3 linked regions of the Homo sapiens genome follow. The protein of the gene in region 1 interacts with the protein of each later gene in a pairwise test. Each region holds a gene or a part of one and is shown in the gene's direction. Other genes may lie near its edges.

Region 1 (2,598 bases):
CTGCAGTTCTGTTTTGTGTGACCAGCACAGTGTTTTAAAACGTTGCATTCTGAATCCATCTTTTTGAAATGGGGCATGTACTCTTAAGGTGGCCACTAGCTTACCATTCCCAATTTTTCTTAGTCTCAAACATTCACATGTTTTTCAAGGCCTTGGAGTTGGCAAATCCTGAATATATAGTGAAGGTAGGAAATAGCTCTTCTTATGCCACATCTTAGTCTGATTTTGAAGTCAGTTGTGTAAGTTTGGGCTGACAGTGGTATTTTCCAGTGAAGACTATCGCCAAGAATGCATATCATTCTGCTTATTTTATTCTAGTGGATAAAAATTCAACGTATATTTAAGTGTATTTTTGACATCTGTGCTTGTCCAACACAGGGCTGTAGGGACTGATGAAAAGAGAATGTTGTGATTTGAGCTTTTATAAAAAAAGATAAGTGATCCTAGATAAAATATTTTAGATGGTGATTAAAATGCCCATAGATTAATTTTTTAATCGGTTCTCTGAAATCTTGAGATGTTATCCAAGTTACAATTTAAGCAATGAGAGTAAAATTTGAATTCTAAATTCTCAGCATCTTCCCTCATTCTTGAGTGGAGAGACAGAGGAAGCAAACGCCAAGGAGCCTTCTAATTTTGACTATATGATCATTAACTAAAGGCAGCAAGGGATTGTAAACTAATCTTACATAGTCAATGTTTCATAGAATGCTTTGGTTACAATCAGGTTTTTTAAAGACTTTAAAGGTTTTTTGTATGCTATAATATATGCTTATGATTTCTAAAAATTATGCAGTATACACAAAGGGCATAAAGTCAAAAAGTGTGTCTCCCTCTGTGACTTTATTCTCATACCCCAGAGGCATATAATTTCTTGTATTCTTGTGTAGTCTTTAAGAAATGTTATCGTTTATTTTATATATGGCTCTCTCTCTGTATGCCTCTTCCTGTTCTTATTTTAAATGTTCAAGTTTGTGACTTGGTTCTTGTTTAACTTGGTTGTCTTTCCATATTGCCACCTTCCAGCTCTAACATTAATGTCTCCAGGATTCCATTATATGGATGTCCCTTTGGGAGAACATTTGTTTATAGACTTTTCTACTAAAAATATTGTTATAATGATAATATCCTTATGCATATATGAAGATTACTCTTGATTCTGCCTGACTGGAAACTTTATTAATAAAGTAGACATTATTCTATTTTGAGGCTCACCAGCTGTGTAGGTATGATCTTGTGCTTCCATTTAAGAAATTCTTCCATTTAAAGAAGAAAAAAAATCTCTCTGACTATCTGAAGATATATGAAAAAGCCTATGCTTTTAAATTAAACTGTTAAGACAGTCCATTGAAAGATTGTGGAAGTTCACATCTATTTTGCACCTTAATTTTTTCATTGTCCCTACTCATGACTCTAAAAAGTGCATGGCTTGGGGCTATACTTTGTTTTGCAGTTTGTTGGTATCGTGCCTTTCCTTATCTACATTAGCTTAGACTATACCTTATTTTTAAGAAGAGAAAGTGGAAATTAACTGTGGCAAAACCTATTTTGGCACAACCACATTTGTTCATTATACAAAATTAGCTTCCTATGCTTTAGAAAAAATGTGAGTTATTACTCTGAAAGTTGTGATTCTGATTCCTCATGGTTTGGAGCTCAGAAATTTCTTAACATGTCTTTGCTGTTAGTCAAGCACAGGATTTGTTTTCTGCAAAAGTTTATTTTCAATGAAGAATACTTGTCCTAATAGCTCATAAAAAGTACCTTTGCACTTTAAATCCTAGGAATAGGGAACAAGGAAACTTACTGGGAAGTTCAAAAGAAAGAATAACAGGACCTTCTAGTCAGCAGGGCATGTTTGGAAAATGTTAATACGCCATGATTTTTGAAGACCAATTTTAGTTCAGGAGGTGGTTTTAAATATTGGATGAAAACTTACAGGCTGTTTTCAATATTCATTTCTGAAATACTTTAGTATGATAGATAAATTTGGTTAAGTTCTTGTTCATTGTGAAATACTGTTGGAAGAATTTTTTTCAAAATAAAGACTTCTGAATTTGTGTACCATTTGGGAATAGCCTCTTTCATTTAAATGAGTGTCAAATCTGGAAAATTGGAAGAATATTTGTTCCTTTCATCACTCACATTATGCATTTCTGTAAAGCAGCTCATGCATTTACTTCCAGCTTAACGTGTTTTCCATTAATTAATAAGTTTTGCCATTTTTTTCTGTATTTTTCAATTAAAAAGTCTTCATTTTTAAAAAGCAGGATCTATTTGTTACTTAATTTGCAATATTTTTTTTTCAAAGATGGATTTTTTTTTTTCTGGAGTACACATTGATGGAAGTTGGTTTTAAGAAAGCATTGTAATGGGAATTTACCTACCTTACTACTGTTGAAGTTTAGAAGGTAAATGCTGAACTGTGTTTGTCACATCCCTAATCTTATTTCTCTGTAGTGGTCACTGACTATTATTTGTTATGAGTCCATCTTGATTATTCTGTACATCTTGTTTAAATTATTTTCACTAACCATCACCAGAACACAGAAGAAAATTTTGTTTCCTTAGAATCAATGAGTATTTCCACCACCTGAG
Region 2 (7,036 bases), on another chromosome or scaffold:
ACATTCAGGAAATATGTTTTGAGCACATACTGTATTGCCACTAGGTGGGGAGACAGACATGAAACAATCGCCCAATTACAATTGGCTGACTACAATTTTTTTTTTTTTTTTTGAGGCAAAATCTTGCTTTGTTGCCCAAGCTGGAGTGCAGTGGCATGATCTCGGCTTACTACAACCTCCATCTCCTAGGTTCAAGCGATTCTCCTGCCTCAGCCTCCCGAGTAGCTGGAATTATAGGTGCCTGCTGCCATGCCCGGCTAATTTTCACATTTTTAATAGAGATGGGGTGGATTTCACCATGTTGGTCAGGCTGGTTTTGAACTCCTGACCTCAAGCAATCCCCCCACCTCGGCCTCCCAAAGTGCTGGGATTATAGGTGTGAGCCACCCTGGCCTGATTACAAATTTGATAAGATCTGCAAAGGAGAAGTACAGGTTCCTATGAGAGTGTATAATGGGAAAATCTAACCTCTTTTGGGATCCTCAGAGGAGGCCTATGGGGTATTTGCATTTAAGCTGGGAACTGCAGGATGTCAGTGTAGAGTGGGCAAGAGTGGTGGAGGCTGGGAGTGTGTAGATTACCCACTTTCCTACTGACCCTTGCTTGGTGAGCATTGAATAAAACCAAGCTTTGAAGGAACCGTTGAATAATTTTTTCACAGTTCTTGGATATAGGCTAGTCTTTGTATATATCTTTAATTCCTTAGGATTAGCCATTCCAGAAGTAGAATTACTTGGGCAGATGGTTAGCACATATTTTGAGGTTTCTATGAGATATTGTTCAAATGGTGTACTCATTTCTTCTACTTTCAGTGACATAGGAAATTATTATTTTAATGTTTGCTTTAGTCAGTTTTTTTTTTTTTTTTTTGAGACAAGAGTCTCACTGTCGCCCAGGTTGGAGTGCAGTGGCGCAATCTCGGCTCACTGCAGGCTCCGCCCCCCGGGGTTCACGCCATTCTCCTGTCTCATCCTCCAGAGTAGCTGGGACTACAGGCGCCCGCCACGTCGCCCGGCTAATTTTTTGTATTGTTAGTAGAGATGGGGTTTCACTGTGTTAGCCAGGATGGTCTCGATCTCCTGACCTCGTGATCCGCCCGCCTCGGCCTCCCAAAGTACTGGGATTACAGGCGTGAGCCACCGTGCCCGGCCGTTTAGTCAGTTTTAAGACACAGATATAGCCTATTATTTTATTTACTGCTTCCATATTGCTTATCTTGTTTTAGAATATTTAGATAACCTTTGTACTTTTAAAGTGTTACAAAGAGTACCTTTTTACACTGGAAAATAACTTCATTAGATACAAAGAAGCTAAATGTATACAACTATTAGAAAAATATCTCTAGTGGTATATAGAAGATAATTATGTTATAATTATCTAGGGCATACTATGGAAATATTAATTTTTTTGGAGGTCCTTCTAATACATCTGTGAAGACTTCTGCAAAACTAAAACAGCTAGAAGAGGAGAATAAAGATGCTATGTTTGTGTTTTTATCTGATGTTTGGTTGGACCAGGTGGAAGTATTGGAAAAACTTCGCATAATGTTTGCTGGTAGGTCTTATTTTTTTTCTTCTTTCTTGAACTCTTTTAAGGGTTCATGTTTTAAAACTTTTTGAGTATTCTATTTATCTTTTTGAGTATTCTATTTAAAAAAAAACAGAGTTAGCAATGAGATAATTTAAATTAGATTTCATTTTAAAGACTTAAATTTTTACATTAAGAAAAAAACCTGTGTGTGTGTGTGTGTGTGTGTGTGTGTGTGTTTATAGTCATGATAAGTAAGAATTAGTCCTGAAGTTCAAGACCAGCTGGACAACATAGTGAGACCCCATCTCTAAACAAAAACAAAAACAAACTGGGTTTAAGTGCAAGCCTATTACCCTGGGCAGGTTACTTAACCTAAGTCTCAGATTTTATGGATGTTCTGAGGAGTAATTAAGCCAATGCAGGCCTGGCCTATAGTAAGTGCTCAATGAATGGCTACTGTTATTAGTATTATTTTAATAAGTTATTAAAATGTTATTTTAATTAAAATAAATTTTTATTATTAGAAAGTCATGGTTAAAGGGTTTTTAACTTGATTTGTAGACTAGAAAAGTATTGTTCATTTACTCTTTTATTGTTTAGGTTATTCACCAGCACCTCCAACCTGCTTTATTCTGTGTGGTAATTTTTCATCTGCACCATATGGAAAAAATCAAGTTCAAGCTTTGAAAGGTATTAACGATCTATTTAATAAGAAGTGTTTCTATAGTCATATAAACTAAAGTAATAAGAAATTATCCATAATATTTTAATTAAGAATATACAGGATTGTATCTAATCAAATATAATTTTATGGCATTATATGCAAATTTAATTCAATACCTTTTTAAAATTTTAGATTCCCTAAAAACTTTGGCAGATATAATATGTGAATACCCAGATATTCACCAAAGGTAATGATCTCTAGCACTATATATTTTTTCACCGTTTTACTTAAAAAAAAAACAAAAAATGAATTTTGTTATATCAGCAATTATTACAAAACTAAGGAAGAAAGATAAAGTTGAGAAAATTAAAAGAACTAAGAGATAAAGTTATCCTCACATTGTACTAGAGGTTTATAATGAAAAGTATTGAAAGGGATAGAGGTAATTTCAGCCATACTTGGAATTTCTTCGTGGCATTACTCTTAAGAGTCTAGAGCTTCACTCTCCGATATGATAGTCACTGGCCACATGTCTCTTTAAATCTAAGTTTAATTAAATTTAAATATAAAATTCAGTCCATCAGCTATGCTAGCCACAATTCAAGTGTTCAATTGGGCAGTGCAGATATAGAACTTTTCTATCATGACATTACTAGACAGTGTTGGTCTGGAGACTTAATAGTTCATTTATTATAATGCATGAAATTTAAATGTTTTTTAATTTTAAAGAGAAAACAAAGGGAATAACTTGCTTTTAAGCTATTGGATAGTGTTACAATAATATTTTTAAATGAATTGTGTTGAATTTTGCTACAGTAGTCGTTTTGTGTTTGTACCTGGTCCAGAGGATCCTGGATTTGGTTCCATCTTACCAAGGTAAGTTTTGTTCAGATTTTTGCAACAGTGTAGAAAATTTTGTAAAACTTAAAAAGATAAACTATATCACATAAATTGTTTTTATAGGCCACCACTTGCTGAAAGCATCACTAATGAATTCAGACAAAGGGTACCATTTTCAGTTTTTACTACTAATCCTTGCAGGTAAGAATTAGTATTTTGTGTTATACATTTTTCCTTTCATTTAAAAATTAGCCAGGTGTGGTGGCTCATGTCTGTAATCTCAGCACTTTGGGAGGCCGAGGCAGGCAGGTTGCTTGGAGTTCCGAGACCAGCTTTGGCAACACAGTGAAACCCATCTCTACAAAAAGTACAAAAATTAGCTGGGCTTGGTGGCACGCGCCTGTGGTTCTATGAAGAGGCTGAGATGGGAGGATCACTTGAGCCTGGTAGGTGGAGAGGTTGCTGTGAGCTGAGAATGCACTACTGCATTCCAGCCTGCAGCCTGGGCGACAGAGCAAGACCCTGTCTCAAAAAAACAAAAAACAAAAAAACAAAAAAAACAAAAAACAAAAAAACTAACTTGATTCCTAAAATGTGTCTCTGAATTTCGACTGTTATGGAATAAATATAAGAAGAAAATTTATTTTTGTTTTAGGTTTCTCAAAACTTTGAAAATAGTTTAACTATATTTAAATAATTTATTGGTAGTCAATTCAGACTCTTGAATAATGGATAGCAGTTTAAAAATAGATATTATTACTACATATCCTTTAAGAAAGGTTACAAAGGAAGAATACAAAGATTACTTATTTACTGTTCGTATTGCTCATTGTAATCATAAGTTCTTCCTGTGGGAATACCATCAGAGGCAGCCTTGGTTCGCCTCTTTTCTGCCTACATTCACTCCTTTGCTGGCCTTCTCCAGTGTCCTCTGGCTTTAAGTATCATCTGTGTATTGACACCTTCCACATTTATATTTCCACTTCAACCTACCTTCCAAACTCCAGACTCAGGTATCCAGTTGCCTACTTATCACCATCCCAACCTAAGTGAACTCCTGATCTTCCTCCCCACGAGTGTCCCTAACCTCTTCTGTAGACTTCTCCATGTTAGTTCATGACACCTTCATGGTCTGAACAATGATTATTCCAGTTGTTCAGGCCAAACACTTTGGGGTTTCTCTCACATGTTTTTTCAGGAAGTCCCATTAACTTCAAATTATATCCAGAATCTGCTCTCTCTCTATACCTCTACCTCCACAACCCTCTACCACAGTGGTCCCCAACCTTTTTGGCACCAGGGACTGATCTTATGGGAGACAGACGCCAGGGGGGGTGGGGGTGATTTTGGGATGATTCAAGCGTATTACACTTATTGTGCACTTTATTTCTATTATTATTACATTATAATATATAATAAAACAATTATACAACTTACCATAATATAGAATCAGTAGGAGCCCTAAGCTTGTTTTCCTGAAACCAGACGGTCCCATCTGGGGATGATGGGAGACAGTGACAGATCATCAGACATTAGATTCTTATAACGAGTGTGCAGCCTAGATCACTCACGTGTACAGTTCACAACAGGATTCGTGCTCCTGTGAGAATCTAATGCCCCTGCTGATCTGACAGGAGGCAGAGGTCAGGATGTAATACAACCGATGGGGAGTGGCTGTAAATACAGATGAAGCTTTGCTTGCTTGCAGCCTGCTGCTCACCTCCTGCTGTGTGGTCCAGTTCCTAACAGACCATGGACTGGTACCAGTCCATGGCCTGGAGGTTGAGGAGCCCTGCTCTGCCATCTTCTCGGCCTGGATTATTACAATAGCCTCCTAATTGGTCTCCAGCTTTTACTCCTTCCCCTCCGTATTCTATTCTTTTTTTTTTTTTTTTTTTTTTTTTTTTTTTTTTTTTTTTTTTTTTTTGAGACGGAGTCTCGCTCTGTTGCCCAGGCTGGAGTGCAGTGGCGCGATCTCGGCTCACTGCAAGCTCCGCCTCCCGGGTTCATGCCATTCTCCTCTCCGTATTCTATTCTTAACGCAGTGTGAAAGTGATCCTGTAAAGCATAAGGCATATCCCATCCACCTTCCCGATCCTGGAAAAAGGGACCCTCATTGGAAAAAGGGACCCCTCGTGATTTAGTGACAGCCGTATCCTTGCAGTGGTAATCAAGGCCCTGTGTTATCTGGCTCCGTTACCTCTCTGATTTCCTCTCCTCCCCATTTACTCCAGCCACACTAGCCTCCCTTCTGTTCCTCAAGGATGCCAGGCGAGCTCCAGTCTGAGGGCCTGGGCTCCATCTGTTCCCTTTGCCTGCAGTGCGCTTCCTCTGGGTATCTGCTTGACTAAGTCCCTCTTCCGCTTCAAGCCTGTGCTCAAGTCACACTAAATTATGAGCCCGGCCTGTTCTGATCATCCTATTAATATGCCCGCCTTCTAGGCTCTCTCTTACCACATATGCTGTCCCTCTTAGCCTGTCTTTTTCTTTTTCTCTTATGCTTAATTATCTTAAAACATACTATATGATTATGTTCGCTTTTTATTTTCTCAGCCCCACCCCCTACTAGAATGTAAACTGTATGAGGGCTGGGATCTTTTGGTTCTGTTCGCTAATCCCTAGAATGGGGTAGGCATATATTAAGAGCTCAATACATAGCTGTTAAATGAATAGATGAATAGACAGACTCTGGTTGAAGTTTTGTGTGGTGAACAGTGAATGTGGGAATGGGGTTGTATTGTAAGAGATTTTACCTTTAAAATTAATATCATTTTTTTCTGAGAAGTCAAATTCAACTACTGTTTTCATTTCAGAATTCAGTACTGTACACAGGAAATTACTGTCTTCCGTGAAGACTTAGTAAATAAAATGTGCAGAAACTGCGTCCGTTTTCCTAGCAGCAATTTGGCTATTCCTAATCACGTAAGTGAAACAACTTTTTTATTAAACTGCCTTACATGTTGCATTATATAAAATTTTATTAAGCCACTTAATAATTTGTCCTTGGGTTAGGACATTTATTTATGGTTCAAAATAGTTTGAACGTACTTTTGTCAGTAAGTTAATTTTTGTTAGTGAAGTCAGTGTTTCTCAGCTTTCTACCTAAGTGTATGTCCTTTAGAGGACAGAGAAAAGCTGAGAATAAGCATGAAATTTCTTTCAAGCTTCGTGTTTTGCCTTTTAAACTCTTAAATTATACTTGAAAATATATGTATATTTGTTTTAATAAACTGTTCTTATTTATCCCATTGGTTACATATTTTATATAGTATGTCCATATCACAAGAATGTGCAGTATTTATCTTGTAGCTTCGAGGTTCCCTGACAATAGTTGTCAATCACAGGTTACATACACCCCCATTTGAGAAGTACGGAAATAGATGTTACAGAGCATTTTTATTATTCATTTTATAATATTTAAAGTTTATGGACCAGGTGCAGTGGCTTATGCCTGTAATCCCAGCACTTTGGGTGGCTTGCTTGAGGCCAGGAGTTTGAGACCAGCCTGGGCAGCATAATGATGTATATGTTATTAAATGAAAACTCATAGATTTTTTTTCCTAAAATACAGAATAGTTTATTTCACTTTTAAATTAGTGTCTCCCAAAGCTCTGTGAGTCAAAGCTTTCCTAGTTTCTCAAATTTTCTGGTTCCTTTTGGTAATTAATATTTAATTTGAAATTATTTGTTTAGCTATTTTCACTTTTGCAAATGAACTGAAGTTTGCTTTGTTTTGTGCTCTTTTGTAGTTTGTAAAGACTATCTTATCCCAAGGACATCTGACTCCCCTACCTCTTTATGTCTGCCCAGTGTATTGGGCATATGACTATGCTTTGAGAGTGTATCCTGTGCCCGATCTACTTGTCATTGCAGACAAATATGATCCTTTCACTACGACAAATACCGAATGCCTCTGCATAAACCCTGTAAGAATGTAGTTAATCTTATATAGTCATTATTTATCAAGATTAGAGTGCATTTTTTAATTTAAAAATATATATT
Region 3 (7,716 bases), on another chromosome or scaffold:
TTTTCTGAGACCCCCAGAAAGGAAACTGACCCTCAGCAGCTGCCTGATTGTTACGCGAATCTAGCTTTAACGGAAGCAAATTCATTATTTTTTAAATGCAGTGGACTTTTCAAAAAGTTTAAATTAGGCAAAGCAGCTTTAGCCTCATAGAATATTATTTCTTTGGACTCAAGCTGAAATACAAGCCTTACATTGCCTTATGCTTTATTTCTTTCTAATTTTTATATGTATATAGATGAGGGTTCCTTAATGGTTGTGAGCATTGTGTGGAATTTTACACCTGGCCTGCGTGGCAGCCTCTTCCAGTTGAGGTGTTTTATGTCACGCACACTCCATCCCAGTGTACAAAACCTGCTTCTCTTCTCAACCGTGGCAGCTCCCGCTGGCTCCTATGCCCTGCCCTAAAGGGCTCTTGAGCCTCTGGGAATGGGAGGGGCCAAGAGAAGGAAAACCCTGTCTTTAGCACCCTTTAAAAGAACTGTGCCCCCCTTCTCAGTGCTGCCTTTGCATGGGCCTGGCCCGGCTCACATTCGTCAGTGACTCCAACCCTCCTGCTTGCTGTACTTGGGATGAAACGACCCCACAGGTCAGGTGGAGGGTGGGGCGTGGGCATCAGCCAGGATTGCCGTTACAGTCTTTTTCTCAGGAGCTACAAAGATCTCTTCCTGTTACTAAATAGTCGCACCCCAGCAGCCTCTCTCGCACACCGGGGCCCTGCATGTCAGATGGCGTGGTCTGCAGGGGGAGCTCTGTGCCTTAGTGGCTCTTGGCAGGACACTGAGGGCCTGCCTGTGGTGTGCCCGGCTCTGCCACTCCCGGGAGGGGAAGGGCTGCTCAGCTCAAGGTGTCCTGTTCGGTAGAGCAAGTGTCCTCTGACAGCCGTGTCCCCGGACAGTTCAGACACCCTTGGGGATGGCACTCCACACACGACAGAGATGCAGGGGCCAGGGAAGCCCAGCGCTCGGTGCCCTTCGTCCAGGGTTAAAATCGGCCTGTGGGGTGTGGTGAGAAGGCAGGTTGTGCGGGTGTTGACCGATGTATCTTTTCCTTAAAGTTATTATAATAATGGGTAATTTGTCAATAAAGCATTCCTTTGGGGGAAAGTCCGCCTCGGCTTGTGTGATGTATCGTTCGGGACCATGATAAGAGTGGTAAATGAACTGGCACACGGTACCTGCCCTAATGAGTCCGCACCCTTGGGAGAGGCAGGCAGGGGACAGTGCTAAAGACAAAGGGCAGGTCCTCAATGCTGGGACAAGGGGAGCCAGCTGTGAGGGGAGAATGGTATATGGCCAACCTGTGAGGTCAGACCCAGCGTCTTGGGAAGAGGAGTTGAAACTGAGCCCCAGGAGGCGGAGGAGGAGCTCACCAGGCTCCAGGTTGGGCCGGGAGCTCCAGAGGCTTCGCCAGCTGCCCCTGCAAGCACTGAGCTGCTGCTGAGCACACCTGTAGTCCCCGCCATTCTGGAGGGTGAGGCAGATCACCTGAGCCCAGGAGTTCAGGACCAGCCTGGGCAGCATACCGGGATTCCATCTCAACTAAAAACAGTAGGCTGGGTGTGGTGGCTCATGTCTGTAAGCTCAGGACTTTGGAAGGCCAAGATGGGAGGATCACTTGAGCCTGGGAGTTTGACACCAGCTTGAGCATCGTAGCCAGGCCCTGACTCTACAAAAAAGTGAAATAATTAGCCGAGTGTGGTGGTTCACACCTGTAATCCCAGCTGCTCAGGAGGCTGAGGTAGGAGAATCATTTGAACCCGGGAGGTGGAGGTTGCAGTTAGCCGAGATCACGCCATTGCACTCCGGCCTGGGCGATAAAGCGAGACTCTGTCTCAAAAAAAAAAAAAAAAAAGAAAAAGAAAAAGGAAAAGACCCTTGAGGGGGAACCTCCACTCTGCCCCTGGTCTGGCGCTTTGCATGTATCCATTCCTAGTCTTTGGAGTTCCCACTGGAAAACTAGTGGGAGCACCAGTCTTCCTTTGGAGGTCAGAGGTAGCTGGGCTCACCCCAGATGTAAGAGCAGGGAAAGTTAGGTGACCTCGAATTGTATGGTACATAAGCCCCAATACAGCAGGGAGCTGGTACCAATAAAGGGTGAAATGCACTATTGCCGCCTGCAGTCAAGATTTACACTAATTTATTTTGGAATGAGTTCATGTGTTCTTCATTTATTGAACAGATACTGTAACTGCCCTGCGGGTAAGAGTCTGCTAGGTTTTGTGGGGTACAAGGGTGAATCTGATGTGGACCCAGTGCTCAAGGACTTTGCAACCCGTTTGTTGGGGAAGACAGATTCCCCTAAGTCACTGGCTTGTGTTTGACGAGGTGAAGCGCTTGGAGAGCTTCGAGGATGGAGCAAGTGGAGTAAGTGGACCTGAGGAGCGGGCAGCAATGCCTGAAGGCTCAGTCCCCTCTTCTCAGAGTGAGGGTAATGGTATCTGCCTCATCATATTGAAAGGCTTAACCTTATAAAGCACTTAGCACAGGGCCTGATGTATCAGAGGTAAACATCAGACTCTTCCCAACTGTAGCCACTGTCAACTTTCCTGTCTTCTTTTTTTTTTTTGAGACAGGGTCTCACTCTGTCGCTCAGGCTGGAGTGCAGTGGTGCAATCTCAGCTCACTGCAACCTCCACCTCCTGGGCTCAAGCGATGCTCCTGCCTCAGCCTCGCGAGCAGATGGGATTTACAGGGGCATGCCACCACGCCCAGCTAATTTTTGTATTTTTAGTAGAGACAGGGTTTTGCCATGTTGGCCAGGCTGGTCTTGAACGCCTGACCTCAGGTGATCCGCCCACCCCGGCCTCCCAAAGTGCTGGGATTACAGGTGTGAGCCACTGTGCCCGGGCGTACCTTCCTGTCTTATTTTCTCCAAGCAGGCTGGAATGTTCATGGATAGATATATGTGTGATAATATACTTTTTACATATCATGCATCGTGCTCATTTTAGTTTCAGGAGTTCTTTGCTCCTGTGTAGCCTTTCTACACATTATCTTTCTTTTTTTCTTCTTTTTAAATAAGAGATGGGGTCTTGCTCTGTCACCCAGGCAGGAATGCAGTGGCACAATCATGGCTCACTACAGCCTTGACTTCCCACCCGATCCAGCCTCCTGAGTAGCTGGGACTACAGGGGCATGCATGCCACTGTGGCCGGGCCAATTAAAAAAATTTTTTTTTATAGAGATGGTGGTCTCACTATGTTGTCCAGGCAGGTCTCAAACTCCTGGGCTCCAGTGATCTTCCTGCCTTGGTCTACCAAAGTGCTGAGATTCCAGGCGTGAGCCATGGGTCCCGTTGTATACATTTCAGTAACTATATTATTCCATTTGAGTGCTCACTTGTGCAGTTGGGCAGGTTTCCATTCTCGCTATTAAAAATAGTGCCTTCATGAATATTTCAGTGCATATACCTTTTTCTGTATTTAGGAATATTTTCTTTGGAAGAATGTCCCTAAAGTGGAACTGCTAGGTCTCAGAGGGACTCACTTAAGGCTGGTTCATTCATTCTTGCAGCTCCCAGCACAAGTGGAATATAGCTTCAATCTGAGATCGGTACCAGGCCCATTTCATTCTCTCATCCCTCCAATTCTGGCCTGAAATATTTCATTCTCTTGGAATCTATAGTTGTAGATATGAACCTGGCCTTTCTGCTTCTTGGGTTCCATAGGCCTTTTCTTGCTGCCTGCTTGATGTTGCGCAGCTTAATGACTGCTAGGAGGCTTCCCAAGCTCTGACACTTCCAGGCTGTGAGACTGGAACAAGCTTGGCAATTCAAGACCGGCATTATGGCAGTGAGTTATGAGGGCAGAGGAAGGAGGCCAGAGCGTGTTGAGAGAGAATTTGGGTTTCACGCAGTGTGTCACGGGAAGCCTTGGATGCTACTGGGTTTGTTTTAAAAAGATGACCGCACTGAACTCAGGTAAACGGGCAAGGGTGGAAGCGAGGAGGCAGGAGCACCGGCCGCAGAGGTCTGGGAGCTTCTAGGATGGGAAGTGGCCCAGGCAGCCTACGCGGGGCAGGCCGTCAGTGAGTGGCGGAGCGCCTGCAGTTACAGGGACAGGGAAGGGTGGCCGACGGGATGGGCAAGGGCAGAGGGAGGTGGAGTGGACGTTCGTGGTCCTGCCTCTCCACGCTGCTGTTTGGAGATGATTCCGGGAGGGTGGGAGGGCGCTGGCGACGGCATTTCAGTGGTTGGACAGGAAGGAAGGAAGGACGTCCCATCTCGGCGCTCCAGGGTTGAGCAAATGTCAGTCCCAGGACGGTGGCTCCGGGTGGGGGCGGGGGCGACGGTCCGCAGCCGTCTCCCACCAGCTCCCTGTTCAGTTCTTTGATGAGAACGATTACGTTTTCTCAGTCTTACTTAAAGCGCTGAGTAAACTCACCTGCAAGACCAGCAAGCCCTGCGCTTCTCTTTCTGCGCGGTTCCCCGCAGCACATGGCGTGTCCACCCGGGACCCACCTGCGGCCACCTGAAGACTGGGAGGACTGGCTCCGCCCCCGCGCTTCGTCCCCGCCCACTCATGGGCGGAGCCTCCACAGGGCGCCTCGGCCCCGGGCTGTCACTCGGGACTCCGCCCCTTCATGGACGGAGCCTCCGCTCGGCTCTCTGAGCGCATGCGCAGCCGGTCCCACCCGCGGCTCCGACACGCCGGAGCCCACGTCCTTCCGGGAGCGCGCGCGCCGGTGCGGGTGCGTGCGTGAGCGTGCTCGTCTCCGCTGCCGCTGCCGCTGCCGCTGCCGGTGCCGCACCCGCGCCCTCTGCCGCCGCCGCCGCCGCCGCCCGGGGTCTCCAGGCTGAGGAGTGCGTCGGCCGCTGCCCAGCAGCGCCGCGAATCGGGGAGCGGAGCCGCGGAGCCGGCGGGAGGGCGGGCGGGCGGGCGGACGGGCAGGTGAGCTCGCTGCGGGTCGGGCGGGCGGATCGGCCCACGTCAGGCCCGGGCAGGCGGGCGGGCGGGCGCGGGTGGGGGGCGGGGGCGGCACTCCAGAGCCGGAAATGGCGGCGACCCCCGGGCCGGGGCTGCGCGGGCGCTCGGGGCCGGAGCTGCTGCGACGCCGCGGCCTGGGCCGGGGCGGGGGCGCGGGAAGGTCGGCGCCGGGGCCTGCGGGAGCCGGGCCGGGCCGGGCCGGGGGTCTGAGCACCGTGGTGGGGGCTGGGGCGGCGCTCTCCGCGGGTCTCTTCGGGCCCGGACGCCCCCTCCGCTCCCCCAGGTCCCCGCGGCCGCCCCCAACCCCCCGGGGTCTCCTCTCCTGCGGGGGGACTGGAGAAGCTGGGCCATCGCTGGTCTTAGGGAGGCAGATAATTTAGTCCCTGGGTCGTTGTGTTTATAGCTCGGGGAATTGAAAATTGTTCTGTAACGCATCGTAAATTAATCTTTCCGACGTTGTAAATTCCAAAAAGCATTTGGTTTGTTAGAAAAAACCTGTTTTCTCCGCTTTATAAAAACATTTGAAGCCATGCTTTATATTGAACTCTTAAGGAGAGTATTAGGAACTCGTCCGTTCAGGTTCTAACTTGTTGGTGTTAAGTGTCTGGATTAAAGACTCTCTTTTTCGTGTGCCGAAGCCATGATTTCTCAAATTCATTCAGTTGTGTCATACAGGAAAAGGAAGCAAAAATTTCAGCTTTATTTTTGTTTTCCGGCTTAGGCTTGGTTGGGAAGATTTGATGGTGGTTAGACACGTCTGCCCTTATTTGCCTGTTTAGAAAAACCTATTCTAATGACAAAAACAGTTACATTGCTCCCACTATTGTCATGGTTACCTGAAGGCAAAAGTTTACTCAAAGCTTCTGAGATTTTATGTTCGTTTATTTGCTTCTCTTTTTAAAAAAATGTCAGCTGAGTTTCAGGAATGAGTAGTCTGTCAAACAAGAGATGAAATTAGAAGCCTGGATCTAAGGGCTTTGGGGAAGTTTCGGTTGAGTTCCCCTTTCACTTGTGTCGGTGCTGTAGGACTCGGGGTGGCTCCAGCTGGCGTCTGGCCCAGCAGAGAGCTGTAGGGGCCCGCTCTGGTTGCTGGCTGTGTGGACTCTGAGGGACACCCCTGGCGAGGGTGTTAATGAGCCTGCAGCGTCTGAGTCCACCCACCCTCAGACTGGCCCCTGACTCACTCTGCACCTGCCATATCAGCCTCCTTGCTAGTTCTGAACAGAGCCACATGCTCTGTCCTTGGATCTTCCTGGAATGCCTGGTTCCTTAACCCCCTAGCCTGGCGACTGCCTGCCTGCCTTGCCACCCAGTTCCCTTCCTCGCTTAATTTTCCCACAGCGCTGAATCCTCCTAGTGTCCTGCTTAATGCATTTATCATACTTAATATTTTACTGTGAGTTAGTAAGGTCCGTGGAGAGAATGTTTTGTGAAAAAAACAGTTGCTGGCACATGATCGGGGCCCAGTAAATATTTGTTCAGTGAATGAACGTGAGGAGCTTAGCAGCAGCTGTGCGTGGTGCTGGCCTTGTCACCCGGAAGTCCTTGTCGGTGAGGACTGAGCATGTAGAGGTAAGGGTTCCTGGAGTGTTGGCCCTCAGGACAGAGAGCCACCATCTCTCACCTGCCCAATGAGGAAAGACAGCCAGGTAAGGGGTGGCTTGGAAGGGTGCATGGGACCCTTGTAAATCTTTTCGCAACTTTGAATCTATAATTATTTTGAAGTTAAAACGTTTCTAAAAAGTCAGATCTGTTGGGGGCACAGTGGCTCATGCCTGTAATCTCAGCACTTTAGGAGGCTGAGGCGGACGGATCACTTGGAGTCAGGAGTTCGAGACTAGCCTGGCCAACATGGTGAAACCCCATCTCTACTAAAAATACAAAATTAGCTGGGTGTGGTGGCGTGTGCCTGTAATCCCAGCTACTAGGGAGGCTGAGGCAGGAGAATCACTTGAACCCAGGAGGCGGAGGTTGCAGTGAGCCGAGATCGCGCCACTGCACTCCAGCCTGGGCAAAAAGAGCAAAACTCCATCTTATAAAAAAAATAAAAATAAAAATTAGCTGGTTGTGGTGGTGGGCGTCCGTAATCCCAGCTACTCAGGAGGCTGAGGCAGGAGAATCCCTTGAACCTGGGAGGTGGAGGTTGCAGTGAGCAAAGGTCACGCCACACTGCACTCCAGCCTGGGTGGTAGAGCAAGACTCAGTCTCAAATAAATAAAAATAAATAAAAAGTCAGATCTGCCAGTGGTAATAATGCTTTTAGAAATTTTGTCTTTGATTACCAGGAAAAACCCTACATGCTAGTCCTTATACTCCGTCGTGACATTTGGTAATTAAGTAGAGTGAGGTGGAATGATCTCCCTGGCTCTTAATTCAGGAGGACTGCCTGAGAGTGACTGTGGCTGATCCCCTTAGCATGAGGCCCTTCAGCTGTGGTGCTGTGACAGAGCCACAGAGGCTGCTTGGTGACTTGCAGACTCTGGAGTCCTTTCCACAGCCTCCACCTCATGCCTACATTAACTCAGAGTGAGTGGGCTTCAGGGCCTTCCTGCATCCCTGAAGATGGTTGTATTAACGTGGTTCAGAGATTGAACAGACGCTGCACGTTTCTCAGGCATTTTTCCTCAGTTCCCCTTGCTTGGAGGGTGGATACCACTGAGCCTGGTTGTACAGCTGCCTCCGTGACCAGCACCTTTGCCCAAGGTCTCCCTGTTAACAATCGTCAGAGCTGGAACTTGAACTCGAGTCTTCTCTAGACCAGGTTTCTTCTAAGTATTTGGCATCACCAGGAA

The links. Proteins that work in one complex are often made in the same cells at the same time.
Region 2: the proteins of AGFG1 (region 1) and POLE2 interact in binary tests that used the Homo sapiens proteins (3 or more experiments, as listed by UniProt).
Region 3: the proteins of AGFG1 (region 1) and DNAJC5 come close enough for resonance energy transfer, tested with the Homo sapiens proteins (one study listed by BioGRID).

What each region holds. Positions count from the first base shown.
Region 1 is NC_000002.12:227,559,151-227,561,748, forward strand, and holds the end of AGFG1 (arf-GAP domain and FG repeat-containing protein 1), read left to right. Parts: 3' UTR 1-2,067; downstream 2,068-2,598. UniProt on the Homo sapiens protein: Required for vesicle docking or fusion during acrosome biogenesis. May play a role in RNA trafficking or localization.
Region 2 is NC_000014.9:49,650,189-49,657,224, reverse strand, and holds part of POLE2 (DNA polymerase epsilon subunit 2), read left to right. Parts: intron 1-1,381; coding exon 1,382-1,554; intron 1,555-2,130; coding exon 2,131-2,220; intron 2,221-2,386; coding exon 2,387-2,441; intron 2,442-3,010; coding exon 3,011-3,070; intron 3,071-3,157; coding exon 3,158-3,235; intron 3,236-5,847; coding exon 5,848-5,956; intron 5,957-6,783; coding exon 6,784-6,960; coding exon of another isoform or gene 6,961-6,972; exon of another isoform or gene 6,973-7,036. UniProt on the Homo sapiens protein: Accessory component of the DNA polymerase epsilon complex. Participates in DNA repair and in chromosomal DNA replication.
Region 3 is NC_000020.11:63,890,436-63,898,151, forward strand, and holds the start of DNAJC5 (dnaJ homolog subfamily C member 5), read left to right. Parts: upstream 1-4,690; 5' UTR 4,691-4,888; exon of another isoform or gene 4,889-6,573; intron 6,574-7,716. UniProt on the Homo sapiens protein: Acts as a general chaperone in regulated exocytosis. Acts as a co-chaperone for the SNARE protein SNAP-25. Involved in the calcium-mediated control of a late stage of exocytosis. May have an important role in presynaptic function.